Regions from separate parts of the Homo sapiens genome. Here region 1 is linked to region 2. Evidence: fine-mapped expression QTL. A gene starts in region 2. The other region holds a variant in brackets. All regions are shown on one strand. Distances are between the middles of the regions.

The links. PIP is the estimated chance that this variant, and not a neighbour inherited with it, causes the effect.
Region 1: its variant is fine-mapped to the expression of C15orf62 in whole blood (TOPMed, PIP above 0.99).

Annotation. Positions count from the first base shown.
Region 1 is chr15:40,735,454-40,747,575 of GRCh38, forward strand. RMDN3 (regulator of microtubule dynamics 3) reads right to left here. Exons shown (of 13, transcript NM_018145.3): 5 at 9,524-9,806; 6 at 8,594-8,696; 7 at 4,680-4,740; 8 at 3,048-3,123; 9 at 2,512-2,589; 10 at 2,175-2,273; 11 at 1,835-1,888; 12 at 1,671-1,751; 13 at 434-1,141. The coding sequence ends at 1,088. Among named protein-coding and RNA genes, the nearest start is that of RMDN3, 14 kb to the right of the region's middle. RefSeq lists an enhancer at 5,076-5,948 and a silencer at 11,140-11,309. The variant TC/T (reference allele first, on the strand shown) is at 3,846.
Region 2 is chr15:40,765,482-40,773,980 of GRCh38, forward strand. C15orf62 (chromosome 15 open reading frame 62) reads left to right here and starts at 4,499. Exons shown (of 1, transcript NM_001130448.3): 1 at 4,499-6,968. The coding sequence starts at 5,015. The coding sequence ends at 5,542. It overlaps GCHFR (GTP cyclohydrolase I feedback regulator), which reads left to right. Exons shown (of 3, transcript NM_005258.3): 2 at 346-440; 3 at 1,745-2,227. The coding sequence ends at 1,868. DNAJC17 (DnaJ heat shock protein family (Hsp40) member C17) reads right to left here. Exons shown (of 11, transcript NM_018163.3): 10 at 8,246-8,356; 11 at 1-2,581. The coding sequence ends at 2,459. RefSeq lists enhancers at 1-699, 3,160-3,778, 4,397-5,015, 4,969-5,058, 5,016-5,632.

The sequences.
Region 1 (12,122 bases), 28 kb before region 2:
CTCTAGTAGCTGAGATTACAGGCGTGCGCCACCATACCGAGCTAATTTTTTCTGTCTGTATTTTTAGTAGAGATGGGGGTTTCACCATGTTGGCCAGGCTGGTCTCAAACCCTTGGCCTCAAGTGATCCACCCGCCTTGGCCTCCCAGAGTGCTAGGATTACAAGCAACAAGCATGAGCTACCACGCTCGGCCTATGCATCTCAGTCTTAAATTTTCTTCTAGGTGGATTTAGGGGTTTGTGCTCGTGGCCCTAAAAATGAACATGAGAAAGGCAGGGAGTACCTGCTTAGTTGCAATAGGCCTTGTTTAGGCTAAAAATAAGCTCGATACCTGTATTTTATATACTGTAAAGAGCATTAACCATAACCTGCCTGCAACAGCCTCTGTAGGTAGAAACAATTATGGAGGTGTCAAGTAAGAATAAAGAGCTGATAACATCAAATTTGGTTTATTTCAAGTTTGTAACAAAATATATTCTAGGCAACTTTTCAGACATTGTTTTATAGCATCATAAACCCCATACCACTGCTGTCATTCCAAAAGCTGCCAGGACACTGGAAGTTATCAAGTGGTCCAGCCCAGGAATACAGGTAGAATTCACATGATAGGTGATAAGAAAGCAATGTCTGTGGGCCACTCTGATCCCTCTTTTTACCTTGGTAGGTAAGGTATGATCTTAAGACTATATGTACTGAGTCCTATTAGTCAGTGAAAAAGATTAAAGTGACAAGTTATGTGCTTTGTTCCTATAGCTTTGAAGTTCATCCACCTCACCAGCAATTGGAAGGTCTCAGGTCTTGCAGGCTCTACCCATGTGTAATCCTGGGGCAGGTGTGAATCTTGATTTTTTTAAGAGATTACTCAAGGGAGAGAACAACAGAAACGGAAGCCATGAGTACTGCCCCAATTCTAGATTAGGTTAGAGGTTAGAATAAATTAACTAATGGGGAGTGGTAGTGGGTAGCAGTCAGACCCAGGAGACAGATTTGTGTGGTTTCCTGATCTCAGCAAGGTCTAAGGAAAAAAGCCTCCCCGCCCCCCCACCTTAAATAGTGGCATCAAGTCATGAAGGCCAGTGAAACGTGGTTAGTCTCGTAAAATGACTTCCAGTTCTTCCAGGTCCTTCTGGATAGCCAAATCCTAGGGAGACAAAGAACAAATCTAGGGCTCAAAATTTAAACCAGCATTTTCCCAAACCAGTGGAACCTAAGAAGAGGGGCCCTTTGCTTCCTTCCTGAGCTCTGCTACAGTCTTTTTCCTACTTCCCCAGGATAGCCTGGAGCCTATTAAATCTGTCTCTTCCCCTAGAGGTAGACTCTTTTTTACTAGGGAAATAAGACCTCTAGGAAAGATTATTTTCTAAAAATGTCACATGATGATTCAGTGATGACAGGCAGTTTTGTTTGGTTTTTTTTTGAGATGGAGTTTTGCTCTTGTTGCCGAGGCTGGAGTGCAATGGCACGATCTGAGCTCACTGCAACCTCCACCTCCCGGATTCAAGCGATTCTCCAGCCTCAGCTTCCCGAGTAGCTGGAATTATAGGCGTGCGCCACTAGGCCCAACTAATTTTGTAATTTTAGTAGAGATGGGGTTTCTCCATGTTGGTCAGGCTGTCTCGAACTCCCGACTTCAGGTGATCTGCCCAACAGGCAGTATTAAAAAGCCTTACCTCCTTCGTGACATCTGGCAGCTCCAGGGCCAACTTCATCCACCATCTAGCTTCAGAGTTTTTCCCTAGTTCTCTGTAGCACTGAAAAGAGACAACAGTGAAACCTGATACTGTGTACTTTCAGGAGTTCCCAGATCTATGTTGAAGTAGACAAATGAGTTTACCTTGGAAATATATACCCTTCCTGCTTTGGAAAATCCTGGCTGTAGTTCTTCAGCCTGGGAAAAGGGACAAAGATATTTCAGTAAGAGGTTCCTATATTCTAATCAGGCTGAAGTTTATTAAACTAGATTTCTAGTCCCCAACCATGTGGCTGATTCAGTGGGTCTGAAGAAACCTATATTTTTGATAAGCTGTGCAAGTGATTCTGGTTTTCCCATAGAACAGGCAAACACAAAATTGCCCCCGACTAGGAAAACCCCTCCCATTAAGGGTCTCAATAATGTCCTTAGGAAAAAACAAGGTTACCCTGGTGTTTTTGCCTGCCACCTGCCCCTCTCATACCTTTAGGAAGCTCTGGAGGGCATCTTCCACAGTGGCACTGAGAGGGCTTTCAAGCAAGGCTGTAGCAGTTTTTTTTTCTAGCCAGCTCAGGTGAGAGACCTGCCACAAAAAGATCAAGGTGTGTATAAGAGGTTTTAAAAGGTTTTTTTTCTTTAAATCTTTGGGGATATATTGAAAATAGGGTCAAACGGGGCTGGGTCGAACCACCAATAATACGAGCATTCAGAAGAAAGGGCACCTGAGCCAGAGAAGGCTGAGGATCTTGTTCTTCCTGGCAAGGAAATCGGTGTCAGAAGGCATTTAGGACCATTATGTCAAGCACTGAAACGCAGCTTACCTGATAGCACCACCTGCCAAGAAGAAAGTGAGCCATGGGGTTTTCTGGCTGGAGAGCAATGGCTTTGTCCACATGCTCCTAAGGGGAAAATGTAAATATAAACTAACATCAGACACCAGAGTTGCTAAAAGAGAGGCAAGGGCCGGATGCAGTGGCTCATGCCTGTAATCCCTGCACTTTGGGAAGCTGAGGCAGGTGGATCACCTGAGGTCAGGAGTTCGAAACCAGTCCTGGCCAACATGGTGAAACCCCATCTGTGCTAAAGATACAAAAATTAGCCGGGCATGGTGGTACATGCCTGTAATCCCAGCTACTTGGGAGGCTGAGGCAGGAGAATCGCTTGAACCCAGGAGGTTGCAGTGAGCCAAGATCACACCACTGCACTCCAGCTTGGGCGATAGAGTGAGACTCTGTCTCAAAAAAAAAGAAGAAAGGCAAGTCACTGAGGCTGTAGAAAAGTTTTTGGCAGGGAGCTGGAAAGGAGTGGGGAATCTGGGATAGGCCAGCACAAGGAAGGAGGAAAAGCCTGTCCTCACCTTGAAGCTAAAGCCACTCTGGATGCGCCTCTGGATGCTCTCATGCTCAGCCAGCTGACCACAAAGCACCGCATACCTAGGGGGGAAGCAGCAAGCTCAGGGACAAGGGCTGAGTACCATCACTGCAAGGAATGGATGCCCCAACCACAGCCTAGTTGCATTGTCCCCTATCCCTGTACCCTCAACTAGAGCTGAAAATACCTAATTTTCATCTGTACGTAATCCCCATTCTTTACGGACCTCTGGCCCCAATTAGTATTCTTTAGTAGATAATGGTAGGCTTACAAGTCTCCAAAGTATTCTAGGTATAAAAAAAGCTGGGTTCACCACAGTAAATCTCTCTTACACAGTAAATCTCTCCTACACTCATAAGGAGTACAGCCACAGGCATTAATAAAAACTTGAAAAGCATGAAAACAATCAGCATAAAAGTATGAGACCTGACTATACTACTTATCTTCTGGGCAGACAAAAAAGTGGGTCTCATTAGCCTTTAAGCATACAGGTGTATCACTGGGACTTGGGAAGCAATTTCTTAGGATAGTCACATTGGGAGGGGATATTCTAGGAATTTCTGATGTTACTTGGAAACCAACAGAACCAGAGGAAGAAAGACCTCCTATATATGCCTTCTCCCCCACATCCCCCCTCCCAAAGGGAACCAGCCAGCCAGCTTCCCATCATCTGTCTTCAGAAACAAAGTCTTACTTCCCCATCCCCCCAGCATTGTTCCTAGCAGCACAGTTGACATTCGATGAGTAACCAGCCCAAGTTGCTTTTTCATGTATATGCTAAGTA[TC/T]CGGGGGGTATCAGATACTTCTAGAGGCTCATTTCCATGTTTAATCCAAACAGCTGTTCCTCAGGAATAGCTGTTCATCCTTGGAAGCCCAGGGAAGCAGTGACACCCAAGAAACAGTTACCTGGCCTCTGAGAAGAACCCTTGCAGAGACAAAAGTTTCAGCAACAGATGGAGAAACACAGCCTCTCACTTAGCTCACAGTCTGAGGGTGGAGACATGGAAAGCAAGGGTGGCGGTGGGAAAGGAAAGGAACATTTTCACTAAAACTCAGGTGCTGGAACCAGACCCCAGGATATGAGTTAGCCGTGGCCCAGGTAAGCTGACAGAACTTTGCCTCACATGAGACCACAAAAAGGGCTGATGTTTTTGCAGCCTAATAAATTGACCACTAAACTTCTGGGGGGTGAGCTCACATCTACTTTTCCTCACATGAACCAAGCAAAGAAGCCAAAGTACCAGCAGCCAGGGATCACACGCAGGGGAAAGAAGAGCTTATGCAGGATAGGGGAGCTGCAGATTGTCCCAGCCTCCTGAGAGCCAAGAACTCCAGTTTTGTAGCTAGGATGACTCTTAACAAAGCTACTCATTTCTCCAAGCCCCATCAGAAAAAAAGCTTGTATTCCCCGCTTGCCTCATCCCTAAGCCACCTCCCCTACCAGAAACTTCCCTTGTCTCTGGCTAGGGGTAGACTGAGGCATGTGGAGATACAAGCCAGAACTCCCTCTCCTGGATCCTTTGGAAAATGCCTCTGTGGCCCAGGCAGAGAAAAGAAAGGGCTGTCCTCTGCTTTGGCCCTTGCTGGCTCTTCCCAGAACACTGCAGGGTGTTATTACCACAGGTGACAGTCAGCACTCTCATCCCCCTTCTCCAGAGCAGCCTCTGCTTCTTCTTTTCCTGTAGGACGAAGGTAGATCCAGAGTTGACATAGCTCTTATGCACACTTTCATAGGAAGGCTTGTGGGAAGAATGACTGCTTTAGCTCTCACCAATCCCTACCCAGCTTGGACTTGTTTGGAAATAGTTGTGAACTTGAGCAGAATGAAAGGCCGCAAAGAAGCCAGTCACAGTGGCTCACGCCTCTGTGCTGTGTAATCCCAGCACTTTGGGAGGCTGAGGCGGGTAGAGCGCCTGAGGTCAGGAGTCGGAGACCAGCCTGGCCAACACAGTGAAACCCCATCTCTACCAAAAATACAAAAATTAGCTGGGCGTGGTGGCAGGCGCCTGTAGTCCCAGCTACTCAAAAGGCTGAGGCAGGAGAATCGCTTGAACCCAGGAGGCAGAGGTTGCAGTGAGCCGAGATTGCACCACTGCACTCCAGACTAGGTGACAGAGCAAGACTGTCTCAGAAAAGGCTGCAAACGGCTTCTAAGGGAAGACTTCAGGGATGACTTCTGCTTCACCTTGGCTTCCCCATCTGTCATTAGAAACCCCAGTTACCTTCTTTTTATAATGCCCACCTGATGTGCTTGAAGCAGATTTTAGCATTTAAAATATAAAAGGATCCAGCCAGGCACGATGGCTTATGCCTGTAATCCTAGCACTTTGGAAGGCCGAGGTGGGTGGATCACTTGAGGCCAAGTGTTTGAGACAAGCCTGAGCAACATGGTGAAACCCTGCCTCTACTAAAAATATAAAATTAGCCAGGCATGTTGGCACATCCTGTAGTCCCAGCTCCCCAGGAGGCTGAGGCAGGAGAATCACTTGAACCTGGGAGGCAGAAGTTGCAACGAGCCAAGATTGCACCACTGCACTCCAGCCTGGGCGACGAACTCCACCTCAAAAAAAACAACAACAACGGATCCAACACAATCAGAAATTGTCCCCAACAGACCTTACTCTGGAGGGGCAGTGTCCATGAATCTCAAGTTGTATAAAATTTAAGTAAGTGGGGAGAGAGATCACAGCTTTGAAAAAATTCCCTAAAGGGGATGGGTACATTGGCTCACACCTGTAATCCTAGAACTTTGAGAGGCCAAGGAGAGGATAGCTTGGGACCAAGAGTTCAAGACCAATCTGGGCAACATAGGCAGACCCCATCTCTTTAAAAAAAAAAATTCTCAAAAGGATCCACGATCCAACAATATTAATTAGCTCTAGGCCAAAACTCTTTCACAAGAGCCACATGGACTGAGGTCTGACCAGAGATGACGTTCACTTAGTCTTACCCGAGTTTTCTAGGTTAGTGTTCTAACAAAGAAATGAAAGCCCATAAACATGAAAGTTCTGACAAGCGTCACTTAAGAGTATCGAGGCTGGAGCTTACGGACCACCAGATAAGGACCATCATGCCTATGCACTGGAGAAGACACTGCAACATAGGATTTTTTTTTTTTTTTTTTTTTTTTTTGAGACAAGAGTCTCACTCTGTCGTCCAGGCTGGAGTGCAATAGCACGATCTAGGCTCACCGCAACCTCCGCCTCCAGGTTCAAGTGATTCTCCTGCGTCAGCCTCCCGAGTAGCTGGGATTACAGGTGTGTGCCACCACACCTGGCTAATTTTTGTATTTTTAGTAGAGACAGTTTTGCCTTGTTGGCCAGGCTGGTCTCAAACTCCTGACCTCAGGTGATGCGCCCACCTCAGCCTCCCAAAGTGCTGTGATTACAGGTGCGAACCACCGTGCCCAGCCAAGAATTCTTTGAAGAAAACAAGTTTGGAAGGGAACATGGAGAAAATGGAACAAATGTAATGCATTGAGGTGGTAAACTGGCTAATCTGAAATGTTTTCCTTTTTTTATTTGAGACAGGGTCTCTCTCTGTTGCCCAGGCTGGAGTGCAGTGGTGCAATCTCAGTTCACTACAACCTCTGCCTCCTGGGCTGAAACAATCCTCCTGCTGGCATGTTCCACCACCATGCCTGGCTAATTTTTTAAGTTTTTTTTTTTTTTTTTGTAGAGACAAGGTCTCACTATATTGCCCAGGCTAGTCTCTAACTCCTGGGCTCAAGCAATCCTCCTGCCTTGGCCTCCCAAAGTGCTAGGATTATAGGCATGAGCCACCACACCTGGCCACAAATGCATTCTTAAGACAACTGATGCTGTGAAAGACTCTACCTCTCTTCCCAAAGAGAGGGACCACATGGCCCCACCAATGAGGGACGCTGCCTCTTTGGGGATTTCTCTCTGCCCTCTTCAAAGTACTGTCTCACTAGGAAAATAATAGCAAAGAATGAGACAACTAGTTCCTGCCAAGCTAGACAGACAGTGTTGTAGACAAGACATTGCCTGAGACCCCACAGAATGACTGCCTCCTGGTGGTCCAGCTCCTAGAGATACAATGAAATAAACTTTATACCCAGTAAGGATAATTCTTAAAGGCTGTGATCTCAGAGCAGAACCTTCAAAGACATTCCATAGTCATCTGACCTCCAGCAGGTAAAGCTTTGTCCATGGGTGCTAAGCTCAGGAGGCCAGACCAACCAAGTGCTGCCCTGCTAACCACTGCCTCCACTTCTGTCTTTGGGGTTCATGCTGGCTACTAGCACTAATAAGAGATGACCAATGATCAAGAGGGAAAGGAAAGGTTGTTGACATGAAGAGTCCAAAAATCAGCCCAAAAGCTGAGAATCCTCATCTGAAATTTAGGAGGGAAAACAAACTTTTGGAGAGAAAAAGTAATCATAAATAAGCATCTTTTGTTAAAACTTCCAGGAATTTTTCTGAGGGTCTACAGAGACATCCTACTCAATTGGTCTGTTCTTTCTCCATTGACAGAATTCTACAAATGTTTAGAATGTTAACTTTGAGGTACTGTTTGAGTATACATTATCAAGGATTCAATAATATTTGTAAGGCTGTACTTACAATAGAAAGGTAGACAAATCCATTTTAGACAGTTAACTGGCCAGGCACAGTGGTTTATGCCTGTTATCCCAGCACTTTGGGAGGCCTAGGTGGGTGAATCAGTTGAGGCCAGGAGTTCAAGACCAGCCTAGCCAACATGGCGAAACCCCATCTCTGCTAAAAATACAAGACTTAGTCGGGTATGATGGCATGTGCTTGTAATCCCAGCTACTGGGGAGGCTGAGGCAGGAGAATTGCTTGAGCCCAGGAGGTGGAGGTTGCAGTCAGCCGAGATCAGGCCACTGAACTCCAGCCTGGGCAACAGAGAAAGACTGTTTAAAAAAAAAAAAAAAATAGATATTAACTGAACCACAGACCTAGAAACCCATTACCCATTGATGGTACCTGACTCAGTGTGTGGAGTTCAGCAGGACACATCAGTCTCTAAAGTCCAAGCATTCTCTGACCTCATGACAGATAAGGCCAAGCCCTGAGCCTGGCACAGGTCAGATGCACCCTATCCTCCAGGGTGGAGCCTTTGCCAACAGACTTGCCAAGTGGATTCCAGAGTCTTCTAAGCTAGCTATATTCTTAGAACACCTGCCCCACCAGCTCAGAAAACTGAAACCAGATTTCTAAGCAGCAGCAAAAAACCTCAGGTTAAGAAAAAAGGTTTTGCCCTCTGTGGCTAGAGTGAGAAAAACGAATAACATTGATAGGATACAACTACTCCTAGAAACACATGCACGTGTGTTACTAATCAGCATGATATACAGATAAGCAAAGACTGCTCTCTTCTTCCAGAGGAGAAAGCAAGGGTCTTTGGGAGCCAGAGTTTGTCCCTAGTGGGTAACTGAGCCACAACTGCTGACAGCATCTTGGTGGTTCCCCGGGTCCCCAGGCAGATGGGCCAGCCCCACCCCTGAATCAGTCAGTCACCTTCCCACAGGAAGCTGTCAGCACTTACCATCTAGGGCATATGACTTCTTCTCGCTCACCTCCTCAGTGAGCTCACACATGTCACTGTAGGCTCGGGCCAGGCGCCAGAGAAAGTCCTGCCGGCTTCCATACTGCAGACCAGACAGAAACGGGTGAGGCCCCTTTTTCCTCAACTGTGGAGAATGGGGGCCTTGGCCTTCCCCCACACCCTAGGTTTGAATTTCCAAGCTAGTATGTTACAGTCATCAATATCAGGCCAGCTCCTACACGCAGCCTTCCCCCCAGTCATCCCTTCCCACGTGCAGTTAATGTATGACACATTCTCTGTCTAGCCAGTAGCTTGCACAATTACGGGGTGAGGGCATTCTGACCTCCTAGAACTGCTGGGAGGAAAGGTCAACTCCAAGATGTCATAAGGCACGAGAGGTCTTTTGCTGACACATGAAGAAAGTGTGAAAGGAAAAGGGAAACTTCTAACTTCTGGGGGGGGGGCATTTATACCTGGGTGGGCATATATTCTGTCAGTGAACCTGACAAGAGAATTATGGTTGAGTGACCTACACAGTTGTCGCTTGTAATGGGGCTGGCAGCTTGGACTCTGCCTCAAGGGAAATGAGGAGAAAAAAAAAATACAGTTCTTTCCACATTTCCCCCTAGAGGTGAGAGGTAGAGCTCTTTCTGCAGTAGCTCTACAGAAAGCAGAGAACTACACTCCCCCTCCCAAGAGGGGAGGCAGCTCTGGGGCAAGCAGTACACTGGCCCTAGGATCCACGCTGGGCCTCCTTGGAAGAGGATATGTGACCTGGGGGACAGATGCAAAACCAGCTGTCTCACCATTTCTCGTCCCATGTCACCTTGTAGGGGCAGTAACCACACGGGCCTTCATTCCCCAGGGGTCAGGAACAGAGAGATGGAGGGAGGGAGGGAAGGAGAAGGAGACAGGCAGCTGGAGCCTCACCACCAGCTTGTTGTTGAGCAGCAGCTGGAAGCCCTCCCGCTTGCCTTGCTCATCACCCCTGTGCAGCTCGTCGGCCTGCTGCAGGAGGGGCAGCACATCCTCCAAGCCTGAGGAACCTCCAGCCTCCAGGGCACTGGAGGCACCTGAAGCTGCCTCTTCCTCCAAGTCAAGAGAATCCTTTCTCCCCATCTTCACAGTCTCACAGCTCACTTCATCTTCCCCGTCCTCACTTTCTTTGTCAGAGTCCCGCTCATTGTCAGACTCCGCATTGGCTGTTGTGTAACTGGCAGAGAAATGTAAGGGACAACAAGAGGATTATTCAGCTCAGAGCCCCTAGGGTCTGTCTATCCCTCACCCCCAAAGAAGCACTCTACATGGCATTGTCCAAAGCACCAAATCACAATCATTCATACCTCTTAAGGGCAGACTTTTTTTCTTTTTTTTTTTTTTTTTTGAGACAGGGTCCCGCTCTGTCACCCAGACTGGAGTGCAGTGGTTCGATCTTGGCTCACTCAAACCTCCACCTCCTGGGGTCAAGCAATTCTCCCACCTAATTTTTTTGTATTTTTAGTAGAGACGGGGTTTTGCCATGTTGCCCAGACTGGTCTCAAACCCCTGGCCTCAAGTGATCCGCCCACCTCGGCCTCCCAAAGTGCTGGGATTACAGGCATGAGCCACCATGCCCAGCAGAAATCATTATTTGAGAGAAAGTTTCCTATGGGAACTAAGGGCTGGGAAAATGATCCAGGAAGGAAAGAGCAGACAACCAGCTGAGGCCCTGTGACAGTTAAGGCAAATGTGAGAAGTCCCTGCTCGTTTTTGCCTTATCAGTCAGAGACACTTGCCACAACCAACATGGGTGGGTGCAGCCTCAGGCCATGGGCAGCCACACACACATCCACAAACTCGCAACCTCTGGCCCAAGTCAACAACCAAACCTAAACCGCAACAGGAGTAGCCCATAGTAACCTTGAGAACTTAAGGGTGTGAGGAGAGGTGATAGGAACCACTTTGCAGCCAGAAGCAAGAAGGGGAAGACAATGCAAACTACCCCCTGAAAAGGTGTTTGGGGGGCTGCCATATGCCAGGTGGCTCCTAAGGAGCCCCAACCCTGATGCACCCACTAAAGAGGAAGCTGAGTTTCTCTTGGATCTCAGCCACCAGCAGCTGATTAGGGTGTTTTCCCTAAATGCCTAAAATAGATAAGGACTGAGCAGGGGAAAAGGTAGGACTTCTGGGGGTCAGAAGCAAACACAAGGCTGGGGGCGGTGGCTCACGCCTGTAATCCCAGCACTTTGGGAGGCCGAGGCGGGCGGATCAGGAGGTCAGGAGATCAAGACCATCCTGGCTAACACGGTGAAACCCTGTCTCTACTAAAAAATACAAAAAATTAGCCAGGCATGGTGGCAGGTGCCTGTAGTCCCAGCTACTCGGGAGGCTGAGGCAGAAGAATGGGCGTGAACCCGGGAGGCAGAGCTTGCAGTGAGCGGAGATCACACCACTGCACTCCACCCTGGGCGACAGAGCAAGACTCCGTCTCAAAAAAAAAAAAAAAAAAGAATAGGCTCCCTGTGGCTGGAGCAAAACAGGACTGAAGGAGAGATGACACACCACCTACAAATAAAGTCAACAACTGACAGCCTAATGTCAGGGCAGAAGTGCTGTCCTGCCCAGAAAACCAGAAACCACAAGGTGGCAGGCTCTGAAGGCTCTGGAAGTGAGCAGCCAGACCTGGTACCCAGTCCGTGCTGACTGCATCCTTACAGAGGAGCTTCAGCCTCATCTAAAAAAGAGGCCCCAGACACATCTACTACAAGAACTTGTAAGGTATTTAAAACCTTTCCTAACTGCACCTTTGTTTTTTAAGAGGTTATCCAAGTAGATTTCCCCTTTAGTTATTAGAAAAAAAAAAAAACACCTTTAGAAATCAAAGGGACAAGGATAAGTGTCATTAGATTTCGTAACCAACCTGGGTACTGATGAGGGAGACCACCCACAGGCAACCTAGAGAATGAAACTCCCAACTGCACCTGCCAGATTGAGAAAAATCAAACCAGAGTCTCCTCTGCCCAGCCAGGCCCAAATGCAAAATGGGTAGATGGTTTATCTGGAACGGGAAGCTGGAATTGCATCATCTCCCTTTGCTAGAAGGAGGGGGAGACCCTATTTCTTGCTGAGTTGAGGGCTGCCTCAGCCAATCAGGAGTCCAAAGAGGAGTCTCTCTGCCTCCAGCACTCCCAGGGAGGGACCTAGCCCTGCTGGAGCCCAGGCATCAGCACAGAATCCCCTGGGACCTGAGCTGCGATGCTGCCATCCCTCTGGATCCTAAAGGCCCAGCTCACAAAGCCAAGAAGAGAGGTCAGGGAGCCTTGCTGCCACAAACAGAGTGAAAGATGGTAGAGCCCTGTGAGGCAGGGAGGCTCCAGGGAAGCTGGCATAGAAAGTAGACTTTAATTGCATCTCAGCCCCACTTTAAGGAACCCTCAACAATCTGAAACCCTACTGCCTGAGGCAGCTTCTGGGGCCTCAGAAGAGATTAATCACATGCCAAGGGCTACCACATTTACACCATTCTCTCTCACTTTCCACCTCCCAGACT
Region 2 (8,499 bases):
GCTGGAGTGCAGTGGTGCAATCATGGCTCACTGCAGCCTCAAACTCCTCCCACCTCAAGCGATCCTCCCACCTCAGCCTCAGTAGCTGGAACTATAGGCTCGTGATACTTTGCCTGGCTAAAGCTGAGCTTTAAGGCACTAGGGAGGGCGCCTACATTGCTCCTCCTGATCATTGATGGGCTCCACCCCTTCACAGCTTGTGCTCAGCCCCTAAGAATCCTTGCTACTCTCTGTAGCCTTTACCTGAACCTTACTCAGGGCTAGCAGGCAGGGGAGGAAGGACAGGCAAGACCTTCCACCTCCTCCTGGCAGCCAGCCAAGCAGCCACTGTGGCTTACCTTGCAGGAGGTGGGCCCCACTATGGTGGGCGATGAACAGTCGGATCCAGAGCTGATGCAGCATCTGGGGGCTTCAAAGAGAAGAGCCTTGGGAAACAACTTGTAAGTAGCAGCCTCCCTCAGTATCCTCTCCCTGCCAGCCCCTAGACCTGCCTCTGCTCCCTTTATACAACCTCCAAGCCCAGGGACAGGGCCCAGCATCAGAGCCCCCTGCCTGCATCCTGGGGCTCTGTTCTCCGGAGGAGTTGGTCCCATCTGTAGCCTCTCCAACATCCCCCCTCTCCCCCACGAGGCTTGCTCTGAAAGCTTTCCACATCCTTACTGGAACCGCAGAAACAGAGTCCGTTCCCTGGGTCTAGGACTCCACTAGCAGACTGTTCCTTGCCCTGCCCTCTCCTAAGCTGGACCCCATCAAGGACAGACAGGCACAGAGAGAAAGGTTTTTGTCGTGAGGATCTGCATGAGTCGCAAAGCTAAGCCCTAGAAGCAGGGAGCAGGGAGCCTGCGTCCTACCTCCAGGGTGGCTGCTGCCTGGGGACCTAGCCATTTCCCTTGGCATTCTTCCTAATGCCTCCATGTCTAAACTGTGACTACTGCTTCCATTCCTCCTCTCACCCCTGGAGGCAGGGAGAACCCAAGCTACACAGGCTCTCTGAAAAGAGTTGTCAGAGTGAGTGCCAGTTCAAATCGGGGAAAGAGGAGGGCTGATCCCAGCCCCTGGGTCAAGGCTCGGGGACAGAAGCCAGCCCCCTCCCTTTGCCATGAGGCACTTGCCTCTCCATGCCCAGCTTGGGGCTTGAGCCCTTTGTCTGCTTCATGGTCTTTCAGCATCAATTAAACCTGACAGAAGGACTACCAGCACTCTCCATGCTAGGGAGTGGCGCACAGAGCCAGGAGCTACTGGGGCTCAGCCTTGTTGCTACAGAACTGCAGGACAGCCAGGGCAGTGAGGGGCCTGGAGGCTTATTTTTTTTTGAAATGGAGTCTCTGTCGCCCAGGCTGGAGTGCGGTGGTGCAATCATGGCTCACTGCAGCCTCAGCCTCCTCCTACCTGGAAGCCTGGGTGGGGAGCAAGCCCAGGGAGGGCGGCAGCAGGGCTGTGGTCAGACTAACATGGTCTACCATCTGGGACGCTGGGGAACCTGATTAACCCCTCTGTTTTCTCATCTATCAATGGCCACAACAGTGGCACCTTCACTAGCTTGTTGGGAAGAATAAATGAGATAGCTCGTGAAGTACCTAGAAGGGGAGGAGGCAGGGGGCGTGCACTTACCCCAGCGCCCAGCAAGCAGCCAGCAAGTGTGAGTCACTACAAGAGTGGCCAGGCTGCCTGCTGCAGACACTAGCTTTGTACCAGGAGCTTGCTGTGTGCCCCTCCTCACCCCCCCCATCCTGTCTCTTTGCAGTTATGAATACTACGTCGATGACCCTCCCCGCATAGTCCTGGACAAGCTGGAACGCAGGGGCTTCCGTGTGCTGAGCATGACGGGGGTGGGCCAGACGCTGGTGTGGTGTCTGCACAAGGAGTGACCTTCTCATGCTGATTTGCAGACGGGGCACCCCTGTGGAGGGGCTGCTGTGGGCCCTGACCTCCAAGCTCCTGCCTCACCGTCTGCCTTGCTCCTCTCTTCCCAAATCATCACCGCCATGGGCCCAGCCCCAAAGGGCAGTGAATGGCCTTCTCTGAAACCCTGCGTCAAGCAGTGGGAGAGGGCAGTGCCCGGTGCCCTGGTGCTCCCAGCTGCCCTCCTGCTTCGGGCCTGGGCCGAGGGCCTTGTGTAGGCCATGTTCCTCGGGCAGCTGCCCCGGGCCGGAGCTGGGCACTCCAGCGGCCCTGGCGCGTGGCTCCTGCATAGCTAGCCCAAGCCAATAAAGGGCTGTGATGAGTGGCTGCGCCTGTGCTCTGCTTGTGCACGGACTCTGGGACTCTCACCCTGCGGAGCGTTTCCCTGGGGGTCTGCCCACTTCCTGGGAGGGGCGCCAGGCCTGGGTGGAGCGCTCTGCGGCAGAGCCCAGCACCTTATACCTATGTATGGGATAGAGGTAAAATCTTAAAAAAAAAAAAAATTTATTGGTGACGTTGAAGAAAAGGGCTGAGGGGTGGATGGCTGGAGCTGGGGCTACGTAGGCGGCCCCTCCTGGTCTTCCTGCTGCATCCGTGCGATCAGCTGTTGCCGCTCGGCCGCCTGGCGCATGCGCATCATGACGAGGCTCTCGTAGTCCCTCTCTGACAGCACTGAGCCCTGTCGGACAGGGCAGGGACAGGGAGGGGTCAGGGACAGCAGGGCACAGCCTCACAGACTCCGAGTACGGTGCCGAGGCAGTGCTGCGTTCTAAGAGTCTCGGAGGGAGGACGGCAGAGGAAGGGAAGGAACCCGGAGCATCCTTTTGGAATCCTGGCTCGCCTGTGTCCCCCAGAACACGCCACCTTTGGCCTCCAGGCCGGCTTCTACCCAGCCAGCTCCCCCTCCCTTTCCCCAGGCCGCGTCAGCTCCGGTCCATCTGTTTCTCAGGAATCACCTGCGGGCCCTCTAAGCCAGGCCCTCGTCTCCCTTCATTTCCTCTGGGCCCTTTACCCTTCACCCCTTTCCCTCTACCCCGTAGCTTCTGCCTCTTAGGTTCCCAAGGAAGGGAAGTTGTCTGAGGAGCAGGGATGCACTTGGCTCTGCTGGGCACTGACCCTGGCACTCTCTATGCCCGGTGCCCTGTGGTCTGGCTCTTGCTGAGGATGCAGAAGGGAGCCCTACCCGAGGCAGCCCGGAATGCCCCACCCTCGAAGGGGAAAAAGGCAAGCATGAGGCCAGCGTGCCTCTAAAACTACACACCAGGGCTCCTGGAGGGCAGGGCCCATAATCAAAAGAATAATAAACAACCATCTGAATGGGCCAAGGCTGTAGGGTGGAGAAGCAGCTCTACAGCGGGACCTAAGCTGCCAACCCACGCCCTGATAAGGTCTGCGGTGGGAATTAAACCTTTTCCTCCCTCGGTGCCGCTTAGGCTGTGTGATGATCATGTGGTCCCAACAGCTTCTCAGAGAAGTGTGAAGCACACCTGAGTTGGCACAGAAGTGAGCTAGGCCAGGGATTGCAAGATGCGGTGGCCTGCCCGTAGCAGAGAGCTGTGGGGCCCTGATCCGCGGTACCCCGCATGGGGACGCTGTCACAGAGCAAGGCAGGAGGAAAATGTGGTGGTCAGTGACCCGGGGAATAGGAAGGGAGCAGCTAGGGTTGAGATGCCAGGCCCTGGCCAGCAGGTTTGGAGTAAGGGGTGTAGAGAAACAGGAAGTGTTACTCAGCCTGGGTTCCCCTGTTCCTCCCGATGGCTGCACCCCTCCCCTCTCCCCGGCTGCAGCAGTCCCAGCTAGGCCGGACTGCTAAGCCTGGCCCAGAGCACGGCTGACAATTCACGGCAGCCTCCCTGGCCCAGCCTCCTGCAAGAGAAGGAGGACCCCAGAGGAAGCCCGGTAGCCAGAGGGGAAGGGCTGGAGCACAGCCAGGTAGGAGGCAACACGGCCCGGCCTTCAGCAGCCGCTCTCCTGGCAGGAGCCCTCTAGGGTAAAACAAGGGAGGACAAGGAAATAGCAGCCAGGCTGATGGCAGGCCAAGAGGAGGCCACATCTCCCATCCCCAGGTTAATGCTGCTCTGCCAAGAAAACTTGGAGCCACCCTTGGCGGGCCCCCAGCCCAACCCTGGGCAGCAGAGCCCGCCCATCACAGGCATGGCGCTGCTCCCCATTAACACACCCTCTGCCCCCCTTCCTGTTCCTGCTCGTGAGGGCCTGACAGCGGGGCTGAGTCACCCATACCAGCTACAGGTCTCTTCCTTCCCCAACAATCGTTCCACACGCCTGCCTTTCAATTAACTCCCACCCGCCCCGAACTCTTCCTACCCAGACACTGTGGGCAGGGAGCCAGGCGCACCTGCTGGGGGCCCAGGGTGGTGGGGCTGTGATCAGAAAGGAAGCCGCGTGGTGACACATAAAGCAGGGCTGCCCCCACACGAGTCCCCAGAGGAATCTTAAGCTCCCCATTGCCCTGGGGTGTTGGTCCCAGCTGCCCCATCCCTGCACGCGGATGCTGCAATTACCCAAGAGCACGAAACCTGGCTTCCCACCTGACTGAGTCAGCTGAGAACAAAAACACATCTCCACCGCCACAAACAGCCAGGCCACTCATCAGAGTCCGGGAGCCACTGGCAGAGAGGGCACGGCCCCACACTGCCCCAGAGACATATAGGAGCCAGGCAAACACCAGGGCGAGTGAGCTCGGGCCATCTGCTGCCTGCCTGTGGAAGGAGCGCTCGCCAGCCTCACCCAGCCCGAGAAGGTCCACCTCTGCCTCCGCCGGAGCTGCCCTCATTCTGGCTCCAGTAAGTGCTGCTTCTTCCTCCTGGGTTTTTTTCCACTACCCTATTCAGTAACCAGGCCACTCCTGTCCCTGTGGGAAACTCTTGCTGCCAGGAACTCCCAGCTGTCTGCTCTCCTGGGCAAAAAAGTTCCTTCTTCCTGAGCCCTCCTCTCACCATCCAAGATGTGGTCAAAGGTCTGTGCTGAGTGGAAACCCTGAGGCCTCTGCTCCTAGGGGAGCCTCCCCAGCTGCTGGCACTCACTGCCCCAGCAGGGACCACATGCACCCTGGCTGCTCCTGAACACCTGTCTGCTGGCTCCCCTGGGCCCCATGGAGACCTGGCGGAAAGGCTCCTTCCGCAACGCCTCCTTCTTCAAGCAGCTGAGCCTGGGGCGGCCACGGCGGCTCCGGCGACAGAGTAGTGTGCTTAGCCAGGCCAGCACAGCAGGTGGGGACCACGAGGAGTACAGCAACCGAGAAGTCATCCGGGAGCTACAAGGGAGGCCAGATGGCCGGCGCCTGCCACTGTGGGGGGACGAGCAGCCCCGGGCCACCCTGCTGGCCCCACCCAAGCCCCCACGCCTCTACCGAGAGAGCTCAAGCTGCCCCAACATCCTGGAGCCCCCACCTGCCTACACAGCAGCCTACTCTGCCACCCTGCCATCGGCGCTCTCTCTGTCGAGTGCCCTCCACCAGCACTCAGAGAAGGGCCTTGTGGACACTCCCTGCTTCCAGAGGACACCTACCCCAGACCTCAGTGATCCCTTCCTCTCCTTCAAAGTGGACCTGGGGATTTCACTTCTTGAGGAAGTTCTGCAGATGCTAAGGGAGCAGTTTCCTAGCGAGCCCAGCTTCTAAATGGGGTGAGGGTGGGCAAAGCCGGGGTGACTGGAAGATCCAGAGGCTGGGGATTAAGGAAAGGACAGGGACAGGACTCCAGGCCCATCGCTGGAGGGTTCAGGCAGGCAGAGCTTCTTCATCCTGGGGGAGGATTCCAGGATAGGAATCCAGGGCTCTGCCTGCTCTCTGGGTCCTGGACAGTCCTTCCAGGCACCCCAGAGTGGAGGGACAGAGGCAATCTGGAAATGTTGGGGGGGCGGCCCTTCCTGGCAGGACCCTGAAGAAAGCTGGCTATGCCGGGAAAGGGAGGCTGTGCCGGGAAAGGGAGGCTCTGTGCGGCACTACAGGAACCAGGTAGAGGCTGGCAGAGCCAGAAGGTGGCACGGGGTCAGATCAGGGAGTGGGAGGACACAGACTGAGCAGAAGAGATGAGTGCCCCATGCCAGCCTCTTTGGAAGCCACTGTCAACAGAGAGAGGTCACAGGACAAGCTTGGGTAAAGGCAGTCCAACCCAGGCAGAAGAGGAAAGTGGGAAGGCCCAGGAAGAAAGGGGAGAAGGCCTGACCCTGTCTAATCTGGTGGCCACTCACTGCATGACACTGAATTGAAATAAATAAAATTAACAGTTCAGTTCCTCAGCTGCACCGTTATTCCAGATTCCACATTCCAAATGCCCGGTGGCCACACATGATTAATGGCTACCACACTGGTCAGTGCAGAATGGACGTAAACATCGCTGCACAAAGTTCTAATGGACAGCGCTGTCTAGACCATGGCCTGGAGCCACCAGCAAAGGGGAGGCGCATACAGGGGCTGGCCACATAGGAAGAGATAGGTAGAGATAGAGTATAACTCAGGAAAAAGACCAGGCAAATCCTTAGCAGAAATGAGGACGTGGCTCAGTCTGCCAACACAGCTACCCGGAGCAATCCCTGGTGAAGGAAGGCAGCTCTAGAGAATGCCAGCCACAGGCACGCGCACGGCTTGCAAAGGGGTACTTTGGGGAATTCCCAGAATTACTAGTGATGGGAGCCCTGGCAGGTTTCCTTCCTCGAAGAGAGGAGAACTGGATCCAGGGATGGGCATTCAACAGCGAAGCGGCACAGCTGGTTTCCAGAACCGTCTCCCGGGATTAGACAGTTCTGCCGCCTGAACCCTCCGACGATGGGCCTGCCAACCAGGCCAAGCCCACTGGGTCAAAGCCACAGGCTGTGCTACGGCCCCACCCCATGGCCTCACCAGAACACAGAAACCAGAGCCCAGCAGCACTGGCTGGGCCATGTGTTGGTGGCCCCCCGGGACTCGCTAAGAGTAGCAAAGGGGAGAGGGAAGCTCTGACACACACCATTTCTACGACCTAAATCAGTGGCCTCCCTCTTTCCTCCTCTTGTGTATAGGTACCGAGCTGTGGATACAGGAGAGAATGAATAAAATTCTAACACAATCTATGGAGTGTTATCTGGGGCTGTGAAATGCTGGGACTTGAAGGTGGGAATGAGGTCTCTAAAGCAGGGCCCTGAGTCAGGCCCAGGCCAGTTTGTTTCCCTCCATCCAGGATCTGGGACACACTTGCAGAAAGCTGCTTTCCAGTCACCCCAGTCAAGTGGAGGGGCAGGCAACGGAGCAGGCTGGCGTGGGTAAAGTAATGAGAGCAGCCTCCTGCCAGCCTGCTGAGGGGCTGTGGACACACCAGACAGGCCCTGGGCCACTGCAGAGAAGGGAAGAACCAGGTTGCTAGATCTTGCCCCCAAAGCAATCTGTTCCACCAAGGTGGGGACAGGTGTGGCCAGGAGCCCCACAGCCCTAGCCTTTGTATCCAGGCCAAAAGACACCAGGGCCATGGTTGCAGGTTGGGGGTTACACACAAGCTGGAAGGTCTACGCTTCACCCAGGCAGGGCACCCAGACTCTGGGCAGGCACCACCCCGTGTCAGCAGGGTAGCCAGAGTTCCTTCTTTTTTTTTTTTTTTTTTTGAGATGAAGTCTTGCTCTGTTGCCCAGGCTAGAGTGCAATGGCACGATCTCGGCTCACTGCAACCTCTGCCTCCCTGGTTCAAGCGATTCTCCTGCCTCAGCCTCCTGAGTAGCTGGGATTACAGGTGCGCACCATCATGCCCAGCTGATTTTTGTGTTTTTGTAGAGACGGGATTTCACTATGTTGGTCAGGCTAGTCTTCAACTCCTGACCTCAGGTGATCCGCCCCCCTCGGCCTCCCAAAGTGCTGGGATTAACGGCATGAGCCACTGCGCCCAGCCTGCCAGGGTTACTTCAAGAGGAGATATTGCCTCTTGACAGTCGGTCCCTTTCTGGGGCAGCCAGAGACACATCCAGAAAACTGAAGTGCTGGGAAGGAAGTGGCTGTCCTAGTCACCTGCCCCTTCTCTGCAGCACTGGGTCGTCTAAGCTCCAAATGCTTCACACACCACAACCAAGCAACCTGAGGGCCAGGAAGATCCCTTTGGTGAGAAGGAGAGTCCCAACAGGAGGCCAGATATGGAGAGAAAGCAAGGTCTAAGAATACAGTGTGGGTGGGGCCTCTCTGGCCCTCAGAGAGGAAAAGGGTTCAACGTGAAATCACAGCCCCTCTTGCCTGGGTTGGTGGACCTGCCAAGCTCACTCTAGGCCCCAAGATCTGAATTTGGAAGGAAAGAGCCTGAGAGGAGCCCAGGTAGGAAGAGCTCCGAGACCTGAGCGCCCAGCCGGGCGAGGCCTGACTCCTCACCTTTGACAGTCCTGAGTGGCTGCGGCCCACGGCATCCTGGGGCTGTCCCTCCAACCAGGAAATCTTCAGAGGGTTATCCACCAGGCCAACTTCATTCTGGACAGCCAGCTCCTGCCAAACACAGCATCTAGTCCTGTCCCATCCGTTGAGTCAGCTATAAAGAGGCTCTCTCTACCCCCACAGAGAGAACGGAACCAGCGTTCTAGCCCTCTAAGCAGAGATGCCAACCTCAGCAGCCTTCAAGTGATGGGTGT